7 linked regions of the Homo sapiens genome follow. The protein of the gene in region 5 purifies or fractionates together with the protein of the main gene of each other region. This does not show direct contact. Each region holds a gene or a part of one and is shown on either strand. Other genes may lie near its edges.

Evidence for each region.
Region 1: the proteins of YBX3 (region 5) and H2BC14 fractionate together in Homo sapiens (co-fractionation; one large-scale study listed by BioGRID). This does not show direct contact.
Region 2: the proteins of YBX3 (region 5) and HCN1 purify together in Homo sapiens (co-immunoprecipitation; one large-scale study listed by IntAct). This does not show direct contact.
Region 3: the proteins of YBX3 (region 5) and CEP135 purify together in Homo sapiens (co-immunoprecipitation; one large-scale study listed by IntAct). This does not show direct contact.
Region 4: the proteins of YBX3 (region 5) and ABCF1 fractionate together in Homo sapiens (co-fractionation; one large-scale study listed by BioGRID). This does not show direct contact.
Region 6: the proteins of YBX3 (region 5) and NELFB fractionate together in Homo sapiens (co-fractionation; one large-scale study listed by BioGRID). This does not show direct contact.
Region 7: the proteins of YBX3 (region 5) and CEP170 purify together in Homo sapiens (co-immunoprecipitation; one large-scale study listed by IntAct). This does not show direct contact.

Annotation. Positions count from the first base shown.
Region 1 is NC_000006.12:27,813,703-27,815,989, forward strand, and holds H2BC14 (histone H2B type 1-M), read left to right. Parts: upstream 1-1,319; 5' UTR 1,320-1,341; coding exon 1,342-1,722; 3' UTR 1,723-1,787; downstream 1,788-2,287. Other genes in the region: H2AC14 (histone cluster 1, H2aj), read right to left, coding at 652-1,038. UniProt on the Homo sapiens protein: Core component of nucleosome. Nucleosomes wrap and compact DNA into chromatin, limiting DNA accessibility to the cellular machineries which require DNA as a template.
Region 2 is NC_000005.10:45,256,915-45,259,380, reverse strand, and holds part of HCN1 (potassium/sodium hyperpolarization-activated cyclic nucleotide-gated channel 1), read left to right. Parts: 3' UTR 1-2,466. UniProt on the Homo sapiens protein: Hyperpolarization-activated ion channel that are permeable to sodium and potassium ions. Displays lower selectivity for K(+) over Na(+) ions.
Region 3 is NC_000004.12:55,955,445-55,958,944, forward strand, and holds part of CEP135 (centrosomal protein of 135 kDa), read left to right. Parts: intron 1-1,778; coding exon 1,779-1,920; intron 1,921-3,500. UniProt on the Homo sapiens protein: Centrosomal microtubule-binding protein involved in centriole biogenesis. Acts as a scaffolding protein during early centriole biogenesis.
Region 4 is NC_000006.12:30,574,442-30,577,941, forward strand, and holds part of ABCF1 (ATP-binding cassette sub-family F member 1), read left to right. Parts: intron 1-2,967; coding exon 2,968-3,014; intron 3,015-3,376; coding exon 3,377-3,472; intron 3,473-3,500. UniProt on the Homo sapiens protein: Isoform 2 is required for efficient Cap- and IRES-mediated mRNA translation initiation. Isoform 2 is not involved in the ribosome biogenesis.
Region 5 is NC_000012.12:10,706,324-10,709,823, forward strand, and holds part of YBX3 (Y-box-binding protein 3), read right to left. Parts: intron 1-3,500. UniProt on the Homo sapiens protein: Binds to the GM-CSF promoter. Seems to act as a repressor. Also binds to full-length mRNA and to short RNA sequences containing the consensus site 5'-UCCAUCA-3'. May have a role in translation repression.
Region 6 is NC_000009.12:137,254,055-137,258,126, forward strand, and holds the start of NELFB (negative elongation factor B), read left to right. Parts: upstream 1-1,272; 5' UTR 1,273-1,311; coding exon 1,312-1,557; intron 1,558-1,852; coding exon 1,853-2,016; intron 2,017-2,274; coding exon 2,275-2,374; intron 2,375-2,769; coding exon 2,770-3,000; intron 3,001-4,072. UniProt on the Homo sapiens protein: Essential component of the NELF complex, a complex that negatively regulates the elongation of transcription by RNA polymerase II.
Region 7 is NC_000001.11:243,245,282-243,248,781, reverse strand, and holds part of CEP170 (centrosomal protein of 170 kDa), read left to right. Parts: intron 1-3,500.

The sequences.
Region 1 (2,287 bases), on a different chromosome or scaffold from region 5:
GGTTTTGTTTAAATATACCCATTGAGCAGCTCCTTTCCTAGAGGCCAGGAAATAGGGCTGAGGACTCTACCCTCAGTTTTCAATCTAGAGACTGTGAAACTGTAGAGAAACACACTGTCTAGTAGCAATCCATATACTTTTTCTAGTAAGCATATTAAAAACCGAATACTATACTATATTCCTTACAGCCCAGTGAGTTTCCCAGAATCATAAATAAAACCCACCAGTACCTACTATGTAACTCCCAGTAAGAGGCTTTGACTTTTGTCAAAGTTGTGTCCCAGTAAAATGCCTTCAAGATACCACAAACTGGCCTGGCGCAGTGGCTCACGCCTGTAATCCCAGCACTTTGGGAGGCCTAGGCGGGTGGATTACCTGAGGTCGAGTCAGAGACCAGCCTGGCCACCAAGGTAAAACCCCTGAAAACACGTGTTAGCAAACGTACCTTGTTAGTATCTACATTAAGAAAAAAAAAAAAAAAAAAAACCTTGAAATTCAGGCAATGTAAACAGGTTAAAGATTAACACCGAAACATCATGAGTGTACTGTGTAGTGGTGAAGCAGCTGAAAACGGACTCGTGTCATCTTTTTATGATTGTTGAAGTGGCTCTGAAAAGAGCCTTTGTTTTTATGCGCTTTTCAACTCGGTCTTTACTTAGTCTTGTGGTGGCTCTCAGTTTTCTTTGGCAGCAGCACGGCCTGGATGTTGGGCAGGACGCCACCCTGTGCGATGGTGACTTTGCCCAGAAGCTTGTTGAGCTCCTCATCGTTGCGGATGGCCAGCTGGAGGTGACGCGGGATGATGCGAGTCTTCTTGTTGTCGCGGGCCGCGTTGCCAGCCAGCTCCAGGATCTCGGCGGTCAGGTACTCCAGCACCGCCGCCAGGTACACCGGCGCTCCAGCACCGACCCGCTCCGCATAGTTGCCTTTGCGGAGCAGGCGATGCACTCGGCCTACGGGAAACTGAAGCCCGGCCCGAGAAGAGCGGGTCTTGGCCTTGGCGCGAGCTTTGCCTCCCTGCTTACCACGCCCAGACATGGCAAAAGGTCTATTACCTTTACGGTCAAGAAAGACTGAAATGAAATTGGAAAAACGTACATTTTATAGCCTCTACTGGGCGCGAAAAGGAAGCTGTGCGATTGGCTTACGTTTTATTTTTATTTAGACCAATAGGACTCGAGTATGCAGGATACCTATTTTGATTGGGCAAAACTGGCATCTGACGTCATCCACGGATAATCACCAATCAGCACTGACCTATTCTACTCCTAATTTGCATAATAACATTTAAATAAAGAGGACGAAACAGCCCTAAGGTTGTCTTTTATTTTGTTTTCCACCATGCCTGAACCAGTCAAATCTGCTCCAGTCCCTAAAAAAGGCTCCAAGAAGGCCATTAACAAGGCTCAGAAGAAGGATGGAAAGAAGCGCAAACGCAGCCGCAAGGAGAGCTACTCTGTGTATGTGTACAAGGTGCTGAAGCAGGTCCACCCCGACACCGGCATCTCTTCCAAGGCTATGGGAATCATGAACTCCTTCGTCAACGACATCTTTGAGCGTATCGCCGGAGAAGCGTCACGCCTGGCGCATTACAACAAGCGCTCGACCATCACTTCGAGGGAGATCCAGACGGCCGTGCGCCTACTGCTACCCGGGGAATTGGCCAAGCACGCCGTGTCCGAGGGCACCAAGGCCGTCACCAAGTATACCAGCTCCAAGTGAGCCTCTCGCTGCAGTAACAGTTCCGCCGTGACCCACACCCCAAAGGCTCTTTTCAGAGCCGTCCACGTTTCTCAAGAAAGAGCCAGTTCACTGTTAAGTTTGTCTCCCATTAGGTACCCTTTGGGACTCGCTTCGTACATATAAATGTACTTGTATATGTGGGTTTTTTTTTGTTTTTTGTTGTTGTTTTTGAGGTGTAGTCTCACTTTGTTGCCCACCCTGGAGTGCAATGGCACGATCTCGGTTCACTGCAATCTCCACCTTCCGGGTTCAAGCGATTCTTCTGCCTCAGCCTCTCGAGTAGGTGGGACCACAGGCATGTGGCACCAGGCCCTGCTACTTTTTGTATTTTTAGTAGATACGGGGTTTCACCACGTTGGCCAGACTGGTATCGAACTCCTGACCTTAGGTGGTCCACTTGCCTCGGCCTCCCAGTGTTGGGATCACAGGTGTGAGCCACTGCGCCCGGCCCAAAATATTTTAAAGAGGATTATTAGCAACTATGAGTGACCGTGGCTTAGGGAAGACACAATCCCCCGAGACCATGAGAAAGTGGTTCTGAGGC
Region 2 (2,466 bases), on a different chromosome or scaffold from region 5:
ATAGAATAGCTGATTCTTACAACAACTGTATGATCAGGGATGAGTTAGAGTATTTCTTTTGTCTTTGCTCAAAGCCATACATATATAAATATATATAAAGATTATTAATAAATTCAACAAAAAATAAACTACAATCATGAATATTTTATTTTATCAATATATGCTAATCAAATGTTTTATTTTATTAATGAGTACAGCTTTGCCTCTATTTTTACATCATAAAATTTCCAAGAGCTTATACTTGATAATCACATAAAATCAATTATATTCTATAATTCTGGAATGAGAGGACTTTAAATAGAACATGGATTTTTCAACCACTTCTTTGTTTACCTTTTTCGTATAGTAAAATATGAGCTTATTTTCTTTTTTGCTCTGTGCCTTTTTAGAATGTGGTTGTTCTCCAACTTCAAAACACAACCATTTTGTGTAATTATTGGATATACAGATGAGAAATAATTTTCCTGTAATAATGGTAAATAATTGTCCTGTAATATATTTATACAAACCTATTTTGTTATAATAGTTCTATGACATACCTATTTTGTTATAATAGTTTTATAACATACCTATTTTGTTATAATAGGGCCTTGGGCTCTATTATAACAAAACAGGTTTATATAAATACATTCATATTTATAGCCTTAAACAAAATAGGTTTGTATAGTAGGCCCAAGGCCCTATTATAACAAAATAGGTTTGTATAAATATATTCATATTTATAGCCTTGGGCCCTGCAAAGTTATTTGGAGAGTGATAGAACCTCCCCACACAAGTGGGTTTTAAATGATACCTAAAAGCCTGAGATAGAGTTTATCATAATGAGAATAAGTAGTGAAGCATTCCTGAAAACAAGGAGGATAAATAGTAGCAATGGCAATATATTCTATTCACCAAAAAAGTAGCTTGTCTCCAGGTCTGGATGACCTCTTCATAAGTGAACAATTCCCTGATGAATGCTGTTCCACTTTAAAGAGATGGTTATTTTGCAATTTATAAACTTAACTGAGCATACTATTTTCAGGACACTACAAAGTACATAGTCAAGTTATTACCGTCATTCCTATAGGACAGAGAATGATTTAAACAATATGACATGTTTAAAATTTTAGATGATTTATTTCAAATCCTGAATTATGTCTACTTCAAATTATGAGCAATCTCTATTATCTTTCAGGACTATTTAAAAAATCTCCATACCTCCTCTTTCAGCTTAGGTTTTTATATTTGTTAATTTTACTATGTTACTTTGCTTCTATGGCCCTCACTTGCACTGTTTATAATGTTAACCTGTTTGAATGAGATATCTCTCCATTATATCTTTATCTTTTTAGAACATGTGCCATAAAACCCATGTGGTTATTTTGTTCATATGCACTACAACTAGCAAACTTTTATTTTATGTTCACCTACTTTAAAAAGTACTCATACTGTACCATGGGAAAGAAACATGGGCCTTATAGAATGGAATGCTGAGCTATTTTGAGTCCTGAAAACAATGGCCAAAAATTTAAGGAACTGTGGTTGCTGCATGCACCAAATTGTAGCACATACAAATAAATAAAATACAGTTCTATAACTGTATTCAATATGGTTATTTTCAAGGAAAAATAGGATAGAAATTTTCTTTGAAAGATTTGCTATTGTACTTAGGGAAGTACACCTGCTATTACCCCTCAAAAGCAATGACTTTCTTAAGCAATTTCAATTTTTTTCCTTTTTAACAACCCTGCACTTGCACAACCCTGCATCTCTTGTCTCACCCTAATGCTGACCCTGCTTCCAATTCAGGCTTTGACAGGGACAAATGGAGATTTTAAGGTTTTTTAATGAGAGAAGCCTTGCTGACACTCCCCGCATCCCACCTTGAAAATTATTTAAAGATGATCTTAAAAGAACCTACAGATAATGCTCTGAATTTGTTTACAAGGTCCTTGATGTGGAGAGAATGAGTAATACATTAAATGCTGGGGAAATAATTATCATTTAGTGAAAAATTAAGCATGCTTTTCTAAAATGTGGATGTTTAACAGAGCACAGCTGATTGGGAACACTGGCAGTTCAATGCAGCTGGAGTGTCTCACAGGGTGAAGAGGAACCCAGATCAAGTGGGAAATAGGGATTTCAAAAACCTTCTGAAAGGCTTTTAACATCAGGGCAAAGGTTTTACAGTGTTGTACTTTATATTCTTAATTTAAGCTTATCAACGGGGAGGATTCACATTGAAATGTCTGTTTTGCTAATGTAACAAGGAATAAAATAATTTATGACACAGCAAAAACTGGGGGCTATTTACAACCCCACCCTGCCTTGTGAGGATGCTGGGTCCTAAGGAAGGTCCTAGGTTTGCTAAATAGAGTAATGGGAATAGGAAACTGAAAGTTTACTTGCTTTGCGTAAGATAATATATTGCGGCAGGGAAGGGGTACAAGAAGATAAGAGCTAGAACCTGTGAGAAGGGAAAGA
Region 3 (3,500 bases), on a different chromosome or scaffold from region 5:
TAGAACTGTGAAGCCAGGTGGGGGAAGACTCAGTGGAGCGTGAGATAGTTTAGTAAATGAGATAGATGGACATGGGGACTGTGAGCAAAAGGCAGAAGAGATAGAGAAAAGTGGGAGTCAACCTTGAAAGTAACTAGAAGATTAAGGCAAAAAAGAGGATAATCAGGTTTCCTGAGGAAAGAATGGGATAGACTCCGGAGAGATTCAAGATGTATAATCAAGATAGTGAGTAAATGTAGATTTGGGAAGCAGAGGAATTCTCAGACTTCTCTTTCGAGTGAATGAGTTAGGTGGAGGGTGATACTATTTCTTAAGTTAGAGAATGTGGGAAGCAGAGCAGGAGTCCACTTTTGGATGTGTGGAGTATGCTATACCCACAAGACATTCATGTCTAAATTTTTGGCAAACAGTGGGATATGTAGATCTGTTCTCAAAAGTGTGGGCCCTGGTGGAGATGCAAATTTAAGAGTCATTGGAGTCTCATGGTAATTGAAGCTATGGGTGTAGTAAGAATTATCTAGTGAGATTATGTAGACTGGGAAGAGAGGAGACCCAGAGTCAGATGTGAGGGAAATTGGTATTTAAGGGACAGGTGGAAGAAGACAGTTTCTGAAAGAAACTGAGGAGCCACCAAGGAGGAAAACCAGGAGGTAAAGAAAGAAGGAATGGTTAGCTTTGTTCAGGTGTGTGAACAAACAGGTCATTTAAATACTTTTGGCCCAGTTTTCTTATCCTTAAAACTCCTTTTGTATACTCCTACCTCTGTAGGAGTATACAAAATTTGTTAGAATTCTAATGAGACAAAATTGTGGATTATGTTTGTTCTTCACAAGGATCTGCTGGTTTTTCAAATACACTTCTAATCTTGGCAAAATCCTTAAAGAGATAAATTGTCCATGTATTTTTGACCAAGACAAGATATATCTAGCCATAAGAAAATTTAGTCCTACTACTTGTAGAGGTTAAGAAAACATTCCCTCCTAATTCAGATTATAGCATGACTTTATATTATAGATGACATTCCATTCATTCTAACTTTGCTACTTACAATTTCAGTTATCTTTTATGTTGATATTAGCTAATAACCACGCATATTTTAGTTCTCACTGCCAGTTTTCTGCTAGTGATAATTTCTTGAGCTCATAATAGTGAACACCACAGGCACATTCAGCTTTTTTTTTTTGAGATGGAGTTTCACTCTTGTTGCCCAGGTTAGAGTGCAGTGGCGCAATCTTGGCCCACCACAACCTCGGCCTCCCGGGTTCAAGAGATTCTCCTGCCTCAGCCTCCCAAGTAGCTGGGATTACAGGTGCCCGTTACCACGCCCAGCTAATTTTTTTGTATTTTTAGTAGAGACGGGGTTTCACCATGTTGGCCAGGCTTGGTCTCGAACTCCCAACCTCAGGTGATCCACCCGCCTCGGCCTTCCAAAGTGCTGGGATTATAGGTGTGAGCCGCCATACCTGGCCGCATTCAGCTTTTAAACTTGCCAAAGTCTTATCCCCATCTAGTGGGCAAACATATTAAGCCTGGGCATATATGCCAAGCTTGCAGGCATATAAAACTTGTTTGATAACCATGTCTTGTTGAGGTTTTTAGGAATGCATTGTTTAGTTAAAGATCAGGGTGGATATTTATATATTGATGGAGAAAATATTTTGTCAATATGTATTATGAACTGCAGACACACTTTATAACCGAAAGGCTAACCTGGAATATTTAATTCTAAGACATGGTTTTGTTTCTTCTTAGTTTTTTAAGACACTCATTCTTTTTAGGTGGCAAGAAAAGAAGTATTGCTTTCAGGCGCCAGCGTATGCAAATTGATGAACCGGTTCCTCCCTCTGAAGTCAGTTCATATCCAGTTCCTCAACCAGATGACCCTTACATTGCAGACCTCCTTCAAGTGGCTGATAACAGGTGCATTAAATAATTCTTTCTTGGCTTGAGTTAATTGAGCACTCAATTAGCTGTAAGTTTCTTGATAGGAGGGCTTTTTTTCTTGTTAACTGTTGTGTCTCCAGTGTCTAGCACAGAACTTTGCACCGGCACTCAGTAAATACTTCCAGATTGATATAAAATGTTTTTACTTGTTTTGAAACTTTGATCAAATGGATCATATATCTAAGGTTTCTGTTCATACTGGCTTAAAAATTATTGCCATCAAGAACCTGTTTAAGTAGAGCTGCTTTGACATTTTGTGTTGTCTCCAAATAAGAGGTATCTTTTGCAAGAATCTTTATTGCTTCAGATTTGTGTCAAATGTCAGTTAAATATGAAGAGATGTGTAACTGGATTTGAAATTCCTTTTTTAATGGTTTCTCTAGCTCTGTGTTTATATTTCCTTACATTTGAATCATATATAAATTCCATTTGATTGAAATGTTATTAAACCTCCTGGGCAAGGCACTGTGTAAGTGTTCTGAGGATATAAAGATGAAGAAGATGGTGTTTCTGTTTTTGAGAAGCTTGTAGTCCAGTACTAGAGATGAGATGAGAAATTCACAAAACACCATTAAGAAAATTATAAGAGGCTCAAAGGAATGGATGAGCACTAGTCTCCACGGTGATAGCTGGAGAAGCATTTCAAACTGTAGAATACACTAATGGAAATAGTTCATGCAGGTAGCTTTTTATTTTGTAGATTATACAGAGAATGTGGGGGGTTTTATTAATCTCAATAGATAAAGCTAAAAAAGAGCACTGGGACCAGGTGCAGTGGATCACGCCTGTTAATCCCAGCACTTTGGGAGGCCAAGGCAGGAGGATCGCTTGAACCCATGAATTCAAGACCAGCCTGGTCAATATAGTGAGACCTTTTCTCTACAAAAAATTTAAAAATTAGCCGAGCATGGTGGCATGCACCTGTAGTCCCAGCTACTTAGGAGGCTGAGGTAGGCAGATCGCTTGAACCTGGGAGGCAGAGGTTGCAATGAGCTGAGATTGAACCACTGCACTTCAGCCTGGGACACAGAGCAAGACCCTTTGAGCTACTGATTAGGATCTCTTCACTCAGTTGTCACATAATATTTTTATATAGTTGTTTGACCTTAACTGGGAAGTGTTTTGTTCTTATTATCTAGGGCTTTTCAGATAATGTGTTTGTATTATTTAGGGAATTATTTGGGCTGCATAAGTGACATTAGTCTTTTTTAATTGTCCTGTTTAATTTATATATGCACATTTTGTTTGTATTCAGAGTCATTCATGCATTTATATGAGTGCAGTTGCATACATACTCTTCTCCTAAACCTAGATTAGTAGAAAATGTTGGTTCCAGTTAACATCAGGTACAAGCCGTATCCAGCCTCATTTACTCCACCCCATGGAAAATCTCTTTTAAAAACAAACCTGGGGCTGGAAGCACTGTGGTTCACGCCTGTAATCCCAGCACTTTGGTAGGCCGAGGCAGGAGGATTGCTTAAAGCCCAGGAGTTCAAGACCAGCTTCGACAATGTGGAAAAACTCTCTCTCTACAAAAAATTTAAAAATTACCCAAG
Region 4 (3,500 bases), on a different chromosome or scaffold from region 5:
AGAGATTTAAAGGAAGGAGAGATGGTATGGCTGTGTTAGTCCTTGGGGAGAAATTAGTGTCTGGGATGAGTCAGTCATCTGTGTTGATAAGGTGAGCTGATCAGGTTTTTCCTTCTTAGGTACTTCAGTAGATCCTTCCTCCTAATGCCTTTAGGATTAAACTCCTTGGAATAGCATATAAAGCCTTTTATTATTAATCCTGCACAATTTTTCAACTCTCACACTAGTCACCCAATACTGGGCTCAGATTTTTTTTCTTTAACTTTTTTGTTTGTTTTTTGTGGTTTGTTTTTTGGGGAGGAGGAGGGCCCCAAACTTTGAAATGTGTTCTGGATGGAGGATGCAGATTAAGCAAAGACAGACATAAGCGTGCCTGGGACTTCATAAAGGAACAGAAAGAAGCCAGTATCGAGACCAGAGGTGTGGGTAGGGAAACAGAAAAGATAGGGTAGGGCCATTTTAGTCTGTGAAGCCTTTAATTATTGGAATTGTCTCTCGTTAACTCTAGTTTTTTGGAGAAGTAGATGCACCATAAAACTTTCCTGAATAAATGATTACTTTGAAATACATGGAATTCTAGTCTGAGAATATTTTAATGTAGTAGATGGCGGATACCATTGACTTTTTTTCTTTTTTTTTTTTTTTTTTGAGACAGTCTCGCTGTGTCACCCAGGCTGGAGTGCAGTGGCGCGATCTTGGCTCACTGCAACCTCCACCTCCCAGGTACAAGCGATTCTCCTGCCTCAGCTTCCCAAGTAGCTGGGACTACATGCGTGCTCTGCCACGCCCAGCTAATTTTTGTATTTTTAGTAGAGATGGGGTTTCACCATGTTGGCCAAGCTGGTCTCAATCTCCTGACCTTGTGATCCACCCACCTTGGCCTCCCAATGTGCTGAGATTACAGGCCTGAGCCGCCGCACCCGACCAATTTTTTTTTTTTTAATATTAAATACTGAAATGCTTAAGGGTAGAATTAGATAGCAGTGAATGGAAGGGATGTTTTGGAAGAGAAGATAATAAATAGGCCTAAGCCTGAAGGGAAATCATGAGGCTGCCTCCAGTAGGGGAGGGAGTTGGACATGGTCCTCTACCTTCAGGGAAACAAGGATGGAGAGGGGGAGAGCTAGAATCTGTTGAATCTGTTTTGGCTTTACTGGGAACACAGGCTAAACAGTCTCTCAGGTTACTCTCTAGAATGAAAGCACACAGACAGGTAAATATGACACAATGTGATTTGTGCTATAATATTCAAGCAGAACAAGTAAGGCATAGACTGAGGTGTTCATTTGCTTACCAGATAACTCTATTTACATGGCCTATAGGTTTTACAAACAACGTGTCCCCCTGGCCAGGCACAGTGGCTCAGGCCTATAATTCCAACAGTTTGGGAAGCTGAGGCAGGAGAATTGCTTGAGGCCAGAGGTTCAGGATTAGCCTGAGCAACATAGTGAGACCTCCTCTCTAAAAATTATTATTTTTTTAATTAGGCAGGCATGGTGGCGCTTGCCTGTAGTCCTAGCTACTCAGGAGGCTAAAGTGGGAGGATCACCTAAGCCTAGGAATTTAAGGTTACAGTGAGTTATGATCATGCCACTGCATTCCAGCCTGGGTGACAGAGCAAGACCCTGTCTCTTAAAAAAAAAAAAAAAAAAAGGAGGGTGTGTGTGTGTTGTATACATGTGTGTGTATCTACACATATCTCCCAAATTGAATTTATAATATCTTCTTCCTTCCTATAAGACCTTCTCTTCCACTGCCTCCTTAATTAATAAATGGTACCACTTAGCCCAGCTAATTTTGCCAGCTAAAAACACAGGAGTCATCTCTGAGTGCTCTTTTTTTTTTTTTTTTTTTTTTTTTTTTTGAGATAGAGTCTTGCTCTGTCACCCAGGCTGCAGTACAATAGCGTGATCTCAGCTCACTGCAACCTCCGCCTCCTGGGTTCAAGCAATTCTCCTGTCTTAGCCTCCTGAGTAGCTGGGATTACAGGCGCCCGCCACTATGCCTGGCTAATTTTTTGTATTTTTAGTAGAGACTGGGTTTCACCATGTTCACCAGACTAGTCTTGAACTCCTGACCTCAAGTGATCCGCCTGCCTCTGCCTCACAAAGTGCCGGGATTACAGGCATGAGCCACCGCGCCCGGCCGGGTGCTCTTTATTCCCCACCTCTAGCCCCATCCTATGAATTCTTCTTTATGTCCGCTTGTCACCACCACCCAGACTACTCTGACAGCCTCCCCAGTGGATTTCCCACTATGCTTATTCCCTCCGATTCTTGCTGTACTCTGAAGCCAGAGTGAAACTTTAAAGTGTGAAAGTGATCATACCAATAAAGTCCCCATTCCTTAACCTTGCTACAAGGCCCTCACTCCAGCCTTACCTTGCACCATTCTCCCCTCAGTCTGTAAGCTTAGCCATACCAAACCTTTCCCTGTCTCTCAGTGTGTGTGCTTTCTCACAGCTGGGCCTGTGCACAGCACTGGAATTACACCATGTGTCTGACTAACTTCTCATACTCCTCATTACTTCAGTTATTTGCTTAAATGCCATCTTCTTAGAGAGGCCGCCACCAGAGATGAAGCCAGCCTCTCCCCCACCACCAAGTAGGCTTTACCTTTTCTTTTGGAACCTTCAGTACACCTGGAATTACCTATTTAAAAATCTCTCTTCCTATAGCCTGCAAGCTCCAGAGGAGACCACATTTGTCTTGTTCATTGCTATGATCCCCTACGCTAGCACAATATCTGACACATGGTAGCTGTTTAGTAGATACTTAGTGGATGAATGAATAGAGATGGGAATGATTATTTCTGCAGGAGTTGTGAGACAGTACAAATATTTAAGGAGTGATAGTTAAGCTAGAAAAATAATAAAATAGGATAGAGGCTACAGAGATCTTTGCAGGGGGGATCAGACTGCTTTGGAATTTGCAGATAAGCATTCACGATGTCCGCTTAACTTTCTAGACAAAGTGGTGAAGAAAGGGAAGAAGGACAAGAAGATCAAAAAAACGGTGAGAAAATGAGGGTTGAGGATAAGAAATGACTATGGATGTTTCCAAGCTAAATAAATAGCCATGTGAAGGAGGTGGGAGGTCCAAGGGAGGAGAAAAGATCTTGTCAAGAGAGGAGATAGGCAGGGCACGGTGGCTTACACCTGTAATCCCAGCGCTTAGGGAGGCAGAGGTGGGAGGATAGCTTAAGCCCAGGAATTTGAGACCTGCACACTCCATTCTCCACAAAAAGAAAAAAAAGAGAGAGACAGGAGGTAAGGTGAGGGTGGAGTGGAGGGCCAGTGGGCCAATGTGTGGCAGAGCACAGCCTGCTTGGATTGCTCTTGGAAACATGTTTACCTGTAGCTTAACTCCCTTTATAGTTCTTTGAAGAGCTGGCAGTAGAAGATAAACAGGCTGGGGAAGAAGAGAAAGTGCTCAAGGAGAAGGAGCAGCAGCAGCAGCAACAGCAACAGCAGGTACAAGTGCCACAGGGCCCACCAATCC
Region 5 (3,500 bases):
TTTCTTTACAGACATACATACTAAAGAAAAACCAAACACCATGACCACCACTACAGAAACCTCAATGGGGAATATGTCTCCTCTTCCCGCCCTTTGCTGTTTCTTAAGTTCATTCTATTTAAACTTTTGTCTTCACCAAACCACTGACCTCCAAGTTACCAAATCTAATAATCAATTCTCAGCTTAATCTCTACTTATCAACAAGCATTTAACACATTTCTTTCTTGAAATACATTCTCCTTGGCTGCTCCTTCTCACTGTCCTTTGCTAGACAATCCTCATCTTCCTAATCTTTAATCGTTGGTGTGTCCCAGAACTTGATCCTAGGACCCTATTTCCACCTACACTCACTTTATAGTTAATATCATCCTGCCCCTACGGCTTTAAACATCCTGTTTTATAACTCCAAATCAGCCAGGAGCGGTGGCTCACGCCTGTAATCCCAGCACTTTGGGAGGCCAAGGCAGGTGGATCACAAAGTCAGGAGATTGAGACCATCCTGGCTAACACAGTGAAACCTCGTTTCTACTAAAAATACAAAAAATTAGCCAGGCGTGGTGGCGGGTGCCTGTAGTCCCAGCTACTCAGGAGGCTGAGGCAGGAGAATGGCATGAACCCAGGAGATGGAGCTTGCAGTGAGCCGAGATCGTGTCACTGCACTCCAGCCTGGGTGACAGAGTGAGACTCCATCTCAAAAAATAAATAAATAAATAAATAAATAAATAATTCCAAATAATTATTTGCAGTTCCATTTCTCCCCTTCAGACTCCCATTCACGCCTTTCCTGGGACCTGATGGACTTGATCCCTTGCTCCATTTAGGTCTCTTCTCAAATACAACTTAATGAACTCCCAAAAATGTTGTCAACCACTGTATCTAAGACTACACCTTCCATCCTCCAGCCACTTTCTACCTCTTCCCTCTGCTTTATTTCTTCTGCCTACTTAACACCTCCACTTGTACGTGAATTTAATATGAGAAAAAGACCTCCAAAGAATTTTCACCTTTCCCTCCAAACCCAATCTTTCTTCAGTATTCCCGTATTTGTTTAAATCAAAACTGCAGAGGTATTATTTACTCCTCATACAATATATTACCATTCCTCATACTCTTCACTCAATCCATCATGAAATGCCAACACCTCTATATGCTTAAAACATTTTCCAAATCTAACCATTTAATCAGACCTTCCACTGCCAGCTTCTCTAATACAACCCATGTTCATTTCTCTACTGAAAAGATTATAGCAGCTGTTCTCCCTGCTTTTATACTCTTACCTCCTGTGGTCTAGTCCCAACAAAACAGTCCAATAATCTCTTCAATGTTTCTTTTCTGTTGAGATCCCTTTACTGGCTTCTCATCACATTTACAGTAGGTCAAGTCTTTACAGTGGTCTACCAGCATGTCTGACCTCCCCTGAGATCTCACCTCATACCCTCTCCCCCTTCATTCACATCATCCCCATCACATGAGCCTCTCTTTAGTTTCCTAAGTAAGCTCGGCCATTTCTTCCTCAGAAACTGTTGAGTCACAAAAAAAGACTGACAGAAACAGCAATTAACGTGTATAAAGGATGAGAGTCTGCCAGAAAGACTGGATGACAAGAACAAAATGAATTAAAATTAAGTTCTACCACTTCTTGTCCATGTAAAATAAAAGTTGCTGATTTTTAAAAGTAATCAAATTCCTTCATTTGTGACAACAACAAAAAATATGGAAACCACTGCTTCCCTCAGGCTCTAGAGACAACTAAAGTAAGAACCGATTCCAAATATCTGTCACCTGGTAGATGCCACAATGTTGCTCCCTTCCCTCCATCATATAATTATTTTCTCAAAGACAACAAGCACATAGTAGCTCAGTGAATGATTCTACTTAATTTTCAAATCTATAGAACTATTTTCTTTAAAAATGGAAGTTATTCAGTCACTAATAAATCATGCTATATTATGTCCTTAGTGCATAAGGCAAATACCACTGGCCTATATATTCCTATTTTTTTTTTCTATTATGCCCAATAAATTTCATAGCGTTGTAATAGTAGAAAACGTTGGCGAAGACTTTTATATTTGATCTCAATAATTTTTACTATCCTAGAGATCCATCTATATATTTTTAAGAGAACACACTGACAACCTTGAAGTAGCTTAGTTATATGGATGAGAGCTTTAGGAATTTTCTTTTGATGCTCTTGACTGGCTTAACCAGACTACTTAGTCAGAGAGCTAGTAGATATTATAAAGATTATTAAAAAATATGGTTTAAAGGATCAAGACAACTTTTACTTCTGACATGGAATAGGTAGGAAAGTCAGCCATTCAGTCAATTAACTAAATGCAGTTAAGTTACAGGAATAAGCGTACATGTTCAAAAGCAGCTTTCGATCAGCTTCTGCATATGATGTTTTACGTGGCACTAAGGAACGACTTTGCTCTGAAACTTCAATTCCTAAGGTGAAATACATTTTATTTCAAAAGATATGAAAAAGAATCATCATGCTTTCAGCAAACGTGATATATGTTGTATAAGCCAAACACTAAGGAGGAGTATTTCAGGAAAGCACTATTAAGACGCTAAAAATAAGTGCATATTACAATCTCACTGACTTTTCCTGTCCTTGTTTCCTAGAAGCCCAGAGTGCTGCCCTAAAGCTACTATGTCTCATGTACCCAATCTCTCCATATATGTAAGTCTACTTGTTATTTTTAGCACATTTGTCAGGGGCAGCTGTTGAAGAGTAGAAGGAAAAAAACAAGAAAGAACACAGTCATGCATGATGGGACAGGAGAAGGGTAGCAAAGAACAGACTGAACATAATGTTCGGTCAAAACATCTAGCGGTGAGGGGAAAAAAAAGAAACCCCAACGACACTGAGGAGAAAAAAGTTGTGGCTACTGATAACAAAAATGATGATCTATCCCTAGTTTTCCAAGTTCCCTAGGAACTGCAAAATTGATGTAAGGTTTATTAAGCACAAAACAAACTCAAAACAGCTGTACTAATATTCTGCAGTGAAAAAGGAGAATCAATAATCAACAACCTCCATTCTGGTAGGTTGCCTTTAAAAATCAGCACTGTCTCATTTAAAACCAATACTTTAAAAATGTTATTTATGCTGCAGGCATCTCTTTTGCTAAATCCTTTATATTTAATCATCATAACCCTATGGTGCAGGCATTTAATGCCCCCACTTAATGGATGAACTTAATCTAAAACTTGGTTTTCTCAAAACCTCACAAATAAGTAGCAGAAACAGGATTCAAATCCAGCCTGACTTCAGAGTCCAAGCTCTTACACATTCCACCTGTCTTGTTACCTTAATTCTTTTGTTCTTCTATCAACTAGAAACTTTGGCCATAAGGGTTCCCTATTATAGGCATGGATCACGTGGTTTTGCTTTTAGAAGTGTTACCGGAATGACTGCTTTGAAAAAACAGACTGAAGGCCTTGCCTCAGCTTTTGTAGCATCAGGAAGCCATAAGCAAGGTTTCTGGCAGCTG
Region 6 (4,072 bases), on a different chromosome or scaffold from region 5:
TCGGGCCCCAAGGCTGCCACCTTGCAGGAGCCTTACCTGCGGTGCCGTCACCCGCACCTCCCCAGGTCCTCCCCAGACCCAGGACCCAGACCAGGCCCAGAGCTCAACCCCTTCAAAAAGGCTCTGGGCAGCTGCTTCTGTGGCCTCAGCACCACCCCCTTTCTCAGAGAGGAATCCCAGGCTCAGGATTGTGTGTGTGCTGTGACCCTTGTCCTCCTCTGCCACCGAACCAGCTGGGGGTTGGATCAAGGCACTGGAACCCTCGCCCTAGGGCTGACCAACTTGGCCAGCGGCAAGAGAGCTGTGGTAGCCATGGCCTTGGGAGCTCGGCCCGGCTTGTGGGAACAGGAGCTCTGCTCACGGCTGCACCACCAGGCACCCCTGGTGAGACCCAAAGCTAGGAGTGGGAGCGGCAGGAAAGATGGAGCGATCTCCTCCAGCTGGGCTGAGGAGGGAGGGCTTCCTGGAGGAGGTGGTGGAGGAAGAAGCCTTCAAGGAAGAGCAAGAGTTTGCTGGGCAGCGGGAAAGAAATTTCTAGAGAAAATTTCAGCAGCGGAGACCGAAAAGAGAGAGGGTGTGTGTAGGGGGCTTGGCGCGGCACAGCCTGCGGGAGGGCGGCGGGCTGGAGAGGCGGGGAGGCCCGGGGAGCCCACCCGCCTGGGATAAGAAGGGACACTGTGGAACCTGGACTCTCCTTCACGGCTCCGCGGAGCTCGGTGGGCGCCACAGCCTCCCGGTGCCTGGGAGGGCGGCCGTCGCTCGCGCTCCCGCTGCGGGCCCGGTCTCCGCCAGGCCCCGGCCCCCTGAAGGCGCTCAGATCTCAGTTTTGGCGACAGCGCCGGGGTGGGCTTCGTGCCCGTTTCACGCGGAGGAACCCACGCTCAGGAGGGAGTCTGCGCCTGTGTCCGGCCCCTGCGGGGCAGAGGGGCGGGGAGCTCAACCCCCGGCAAAACGTCCCCGCTGCGCGTGGCTGCCGCGAGATCTGCAAGAGCGTTTTCCACGCTTATGTACACGAAATTCACTCGGCTGCGACGACGTCCGTTCCCGGAGCAGACGGACCCTGAGTCCGCCCCCCACGCCCTCACCCGCCCTCTTCTGCCAGAAAGCCCGGGCGCGGGCGGGACCGGGTGGGCGCATGCGCGCTGGGCTGGCTGGGCGGGGTCTCTCGCGCCGGGTGAGGGCGCTGCTCCCAGGAACCTGCGCGCGGCCCCGGCGGCGTTTCCCGGGGGCCGGTTGGCGGGCGGACCTGGGCGGTGCGGGGCGGAAGTGGGCGGCTGCGGGACGCGCGCGGAGTCGCGCGGCGGGCGGGACCTGGCCGAGCTGGAGGGCGCCGGGGAGCGGGGCTCGGGCGGTCCCCGAGGCCCGGCGGAGCGGGCTTCTGGGGTGTCTGCGGCGGCGCCGGGGGAACGGGCTGGGGATGGGGCGCCTAGCCGGGCGGTGGCCGGGGCCTCGGCCATGTTCGCGGGGCTGCAGGACCTGGGCGTGGCCAACGGCGAGGACCTGAAGGAGACCCTGACCAACTGCACGGAGCCGCTCAAGGCCATCGAGCAGTTCCAGGTGGGGCGGCCCCCGGGGCGGGGGGAGCCCAGTTGGAGGGCCGGGCCGCCTGCTCGGGAGTCGGGCCTGGCGGAGGCGCCGGAAGTTTTCCGGCTTTCTGCTGGTGGCTGAGTCCTGTTCTGGGGGTGGAGTCCGGAGCCAGCACCCCTTTGCTGGACGGCTGGGTGGCTTTCGGTGGCTGCGGTTACCGCCAGCACGGCTGGGAACACCTGGGTGCGTGCCTCCCTGTGCTCTCAGGACCTCGGGGTGCCCGGGCGCACTGGGCTGCGTTTGAGGTTTCTCTTGGCTTCCTCAGACAGAGAATGGTGTGCTGCTGCCATCTCTTCAGTCAGCCCTCCCCTTCTTGGACCTGCACGGGACGCCGCGGCTGGAGTTCCACCAGTCGGTATTCGATGAGCTGCGGGACAAGCTGCTGGAGCGAGTGTCAGCCATCGCTTCGGAGGGGAAGGCTGAGGAAAGGTGGGTCAGCGGGAGGGGTGGGCAGGTGAGATGTGCAGCCGGCCTCTCAGCCTTGGATCGACTCAGGGGCATTTATTGTCCTTTTGGCTCCACATCCTTGCTCCCAGAGGTGGCCTGGGCCTGTGTCTGAGTGACCCCTTGACCCATGTGTCCTGGGCGTGGAGGCTTGTCCTGGTAGCTGTTATCTGTGTAGGGACAGGCAGGTAGCTGCTGCGATTTGGCGCATCGCTGCACCATCAATCCTGTGAGTTGTTCCAGGTACAAGAAGCTGGAAGACCTTCTGGAGAAGAGCTTTTCTCTGGTGAAGATGCCGTCCCTGCAGCCCGTGGTGATGTGCGTCATGAAGCACCTGCCCAAGGTAGGGCCCTAACCCTAACCCTGATGGCGTGGACCGTCCGCCCACTCTCATGCCCTTGGTTAGTGGAAGTTCCGGTGGCCGCCTAGCTCCGGGAGCTTCCTGTGCTGCCTGCCCAAGTGCTGTCCATGGTGAGCTCTGTGCTGACTTCTCCCACATGAGCCGCGTGGAGACCGAACCTTAGCACTGGAGTTAGGGTGTGGGGCCCCTCCTGGGAAAGAGCTGTTGGTATTTAGCATGTCTGTCTGACATGCTGGGGCCGGGGAACCAGTCATAGGTGCCCTGTGGGGTGGAGCTTAGCTCGAGGTGGTCTCTGCGGGGCTGAGGCCTCTTGGCTTGTCTTGAAGGAGACCCAGGGACACAGGTGCCACTCACAGGCAGCCTGTGGTGTCATGTAGGTTCCGGAGAAAAAACTGAAGCTGGTTATGGCTGACAAGGAGCTGTATCGAGCCTGCGCCGTGGAGGTGAAGCGGCAGATCTGGCAAGACAACCAGGCCCTCTTCGGGGACGAGGTTTCCCCACTCCTGAAGCAGTACATCCTGGAGAAGGAGAGCGCTCTCTTCAGTACAGAGCTCTCTGTCCTGCACAACTTTTTCAGTCCTTCCCCCAAGACCAGGCGCCAGGGCGAGGTGAGGGGACAGGCCGTGTGCGGGGTGGGGCACCTCTTGGGGATGCCACGGCTAGCGCCTTCAGCTGCCTGGGGATCAGCACTCTGCTGCCCTGTGAATGATCGGGTGGTTCTGCTTCTTGGCTGGGTGGTGGGGGAGGGCTGGCTTGTACACATGCTGGAAAGAAAGTTGGTTGTTTTTCTGTTTGCATTTTACTTTTCGTTAAAGTGATATATGGACAACATTTAAAATCTGCGGAAAGCCCGCTCATGTGAAGTTAATCCCCCCTCCCCTACTTTTTTTCTTTTTCTTTGAGACGGAGTCTCGCTCTGTTGCCCAGGCTGGAGTGCAGTGGTGTGATCTCGGCTCACTGCAAGCTCCCGGGTTCACTCCATTCTCCTGCCTCAGTCTCCCGAGTAGCTGGGACTACAGGCGCCCGCCACCATGCCTGGCTAATTTTTTTTCTTTTTCTTTTTTTTTTTTTTTGAGACGGAGTTTCGCTATTGTTGCCCAGGCTGGAGTGCAATGGCGTGATCTCGGCTCACTGCGACCTCCGCCTCCCAGGTTCAAGCAATTCTCCTGCCTCAGCCTCCCGAGTAGCTGGGATTACAGGCATGCATCACCACGCCCGGCTAATTTTGTATTTTTAGTAGAGATGGGATTTCTCCATGTTGGTCAGGCTGGTCTTGAACTCCTGACCTCAGGTGATCCGCCCCCCTCGGCCTCCCAAAGTGCTGGGATTACAGGGGTGAGCCACCGTGCCTGGCTTTTTTTCTTTTTTTTTCTTTTTTAAGAGACAGGGTCTCACTCTGTTGCACAGGCTGGAGTGCAGTGGCGTGATCACGACTCGCTGCAGCTTTGACTTCCTGAGCTAAAGTGATCTTCCTGAGTAGCTGGGACCACAGGCACGTGCCACCACACTGGGGCTACTTAAAAATATATATATATTTTTGTAGAGGTGGGGTCTGGCTATGTTGCTCAGGCTGGTCTTGAACTCCTGGGCTGAAGCGATCCTCCCACATCAGCCTTCTAAAGTGCTGGGATTACAGACATGAGGCACCATGCCTAGCCGAGATTTGTTGGGGTTTTTTTT
Region 7 (3,500 bases), on a different chromosome or scaffold from region 5:
TTTTGAGCAAAGCCAAAAAATTGGGTTATATTTTTAAAGAATGGCTCTGGGAATTCTTTAAAACACTGGGAACCATGAGATAAGCTAGGAAATGATTGGAATGATCTGGTTTAAGAGACATTAATGGCTTAGACTAGAGCGACAGTAGTGGCAATAGTGAAAGTTACTAGTTTCTGGCTTTAGAGAGTCAAATGTTTTGGATATGTTAAGTTTGAAGTGTCTGTTAAACGCCCAAGTGGACACATCAGGTAGGCAGTTAGATATGTAAGTCAAGCATTCAGAGGAGAGGTTTGGACTGAGGATAGTTAAATGTTAAGCATCACCAGTAGACTTAAAGGGATCTCTTGGCTAGGGAGTTAGACTGAGAAGAGATCCAAGAATTGAGAATTGGTACTTTCCACATGGAAAGCTGAGCAAAAGAGAAGGCGCCATCGAGGAGGATTGAAAAGTGGACAGTGGGGTGTGAGGAAACTGAAGAGTGTGTTGTCCCACAAGCCAAGTAAAGGAAGTATTTTTAGAGATAAGGAGTGATCAGTCCCCTGTATCACCTTTAATCACCTAAATACTTCATAAGAAATCAGGCAGTATCCTCTTTCTTTCTGAATGGTCTCTGAGAAAGCAATTTCCTTTTTTAAATCTGGTTTATCAACATGAATGTTCACAGTTATTCTCCCCTGGCAACTACTAAATCTAAAGCCCTGAACAAAGTTTTACTCATAAAGAGGCCAATGCTGTTTCCTACGTGGATGAGTATGGCAGCTGCTGCTGCCTCTGATGTTTGAACAGGAGAAGCGATGCTGTTTCATAGGAAGAATTTATCAGGAAGCTAGTGATAGTCCAGCTACCTCAGAGGTTTATTGTGGTAGCCAAACGAGGTAGATGTAAAAACCAAATGAAAGGTATAATTGCAGATAGGGGTCTCCTTCCCTTATTGCCCCAAGTGTGGTACCAACTTGATAGTGTTAGATTTGAAGAACTATGTTGGCAAATAAAAATATTTTTCATTTTGAGTCTGTAGGAATAGTTTTTTACTTCCTATGCACTCTATCCCGATAGGCAGTTTCGCACATCATTTTATAATATTCTTGAGGGTAGAGAAAAGGGCTAGAAAGAGGATAAGAACAACCAGGGCAGGCGCGGTGGCTCACGCCTGTAGTCCCAGCACTTTGGGAGGCCGAAGCGGGTGGATCACCTGAGGTCAGGAGTTCGAGACCAGCCTGGCCAACATGGTGAAACCCCGTCTCTACTAAAAATACAAAAATTAGTCAGGCGTGGTGGCGCAGGCCTGTAATCCCAGCTACTCAGGAGGCTGAGGAAGGAGAATTGCTTGAGCCCAGGAGATGGAGATTGCAGTGAGCCAAGATCACGTCACTGTACTCCAGCCTGGGCAACAGGGTGAGACTCCATCTCAAAAAAGAAAGAAAAGAACAACCAGGCTTTGAGATAATAGCTTTTTTTCCCAATCCTAAACTCATCCTTTAATTCTAAACAGTGTCTAAATAAAGAGAATTGAGGTAGAAAAGTAAGCAAGTTAAAAGGCTTCCTTACTTTTTTTTTCCCTAGGCCAGCCAGGAAGACTTTCTTCTTTTAACTGACTTTTTTCTGGAAAGTGTTCAACTGAGTAATGGTTTGTCACATGTTACATGGAATAGAAAAAGTGCAAATTCAAAGCTTAGGGACTGGTTAGGGGTTTTGAACTCTAGGCAGCCAGCTAGAAACTGATTTGAGGAAGCAGGAGGGTGGGGGAAATGAGTCTGCTTGATGATAATAGGGGTAAAGTGCAAAATACTTATTTTGGTGAAAAAGGAACATCGCAAATACAGGACTTTTTGTGGTAAGCTTTTTGAGGCAATAGGACTATAACTTCACAATACATAGGTATCTTGCAGACCTTATATAATATGATTTGCTATGGCTGGTCATTAAATACTTCTCCTTGGATAAAAAATGCATATAATGCATTGCAAATTGAAGGCCATTTTATTTTTTATATTACAAATCTAATCCTAATACATGGCAGAAAATTTAGAAAACAAGATTTTCTACCATTAAGTACTATCATAATCCCACTAGCCAGTAACCCTGTTATGTATTCTTGTCTATTCTGGTTTAATTTGGTAACATTTTATCATGAAGTTAAACTTTCTGGCTCTAACTTTTAATGTGGCATAGAATCTGTCTTCTCAAACATGTAATCTACTTACACACAATTTATGAAAATTAAATGTATTTTTAAAATTGTAAACAACAGGCCGGGCCCAGTGGCTCATGCCTGTAATCCCAGCACTTTGGGAGGCCGAAGCCAGCAGATCACTTGAGGTCAGGAGTTCAAGACCAGCCTGGCCAACATGGGGAAACCCTGTCTCTACTAAAAATACAAAAATTAGCTGAGCGTGGTGGTGCACACCTGTAATCCCAGCTACTCGGGAGGCTGAGGCAGGAGAATCGCTTTAATCCAGGAGGCAGATGTTGTAGTGAGCTGAGATTGCTCCACTGCACTCCAGCCTGGGTGGCAGAGCGAGACTCTGTCTCAAAAAAAAAAAAAAAAAAAAAAAGTAAACAACACTGTAATGGACATTTCTAACTCTGAATTTCTGTGCAAATCAATGTTTTTCTTTGATTTCAACAAATTATGCTTAAAATACAATGCAGATACAAATGCAGAATTCTACTAATTAAACCTTTTCTAACTTTTTAATAAAATTACCCCCTCCAGTTTATATCAGTTTATTCTTCTACCACTGGCATATGAAACTGTGTGTTTCTTCACCCCTTCATCAGTGCTGAATATTACGTATCTTTTTTAAAATTTGCTTTCTTTTTTCTTTTTTTTTTTGAGACGAGGTCCCGCTCTGTTACCCAGGCTAGAGTGGAGTGGTGTGTTCATGGCTTGCTGCAGCCTTTACCTCCTGGGCTCAAGGGATCCTCTCCGCTCAGTCTCCCAGGTAGCTGGGACTGTAGGCATGGGCTGCCATGCCCATCTAAGTTTTTTTGTTTTCTTTTCTTTTTTGTGTTTTTTTTGTTTTGTTTTTTGTTTTTTGTTTTTTGTTTGTTTGTTTTGTTTTCTTGAGATGGAGTCTTGCTCTGTCGCCCAGGCTGGATTGAAGTGGCGAGATCTCGGCTCACTGCAACCTCTGCCTCGCGGGTTCAAGCAATTCTTCTGCTTCAGCCTCCTGAGTAGCTGGAATTACAGGCACACACCACCACACCTGGCTAATTTTTGTATTTTTAGTAGAGACGGGGTTTCACCATGTTGGTCAGGCTGGTCTTGAACTCCTGACCTCGTGATCCGCTCACCTTGGCCTCCCAAAGTGCTGGGATTACAGGCGTGAGCCACCGCACTGGCCAAGGTTTTTTATTTTTTTATAGAGACAAGGTCTCATTTTGTTCCCTAGGCTGGTCTCAAACTCCTGGGCTCTAGCAGTTTTCCTGTCTCAGCATCCCAAAGTGGTGGGGTTACAGGCATGAGCCACCCAATCTGGACAGTTTTGCCACTTTGA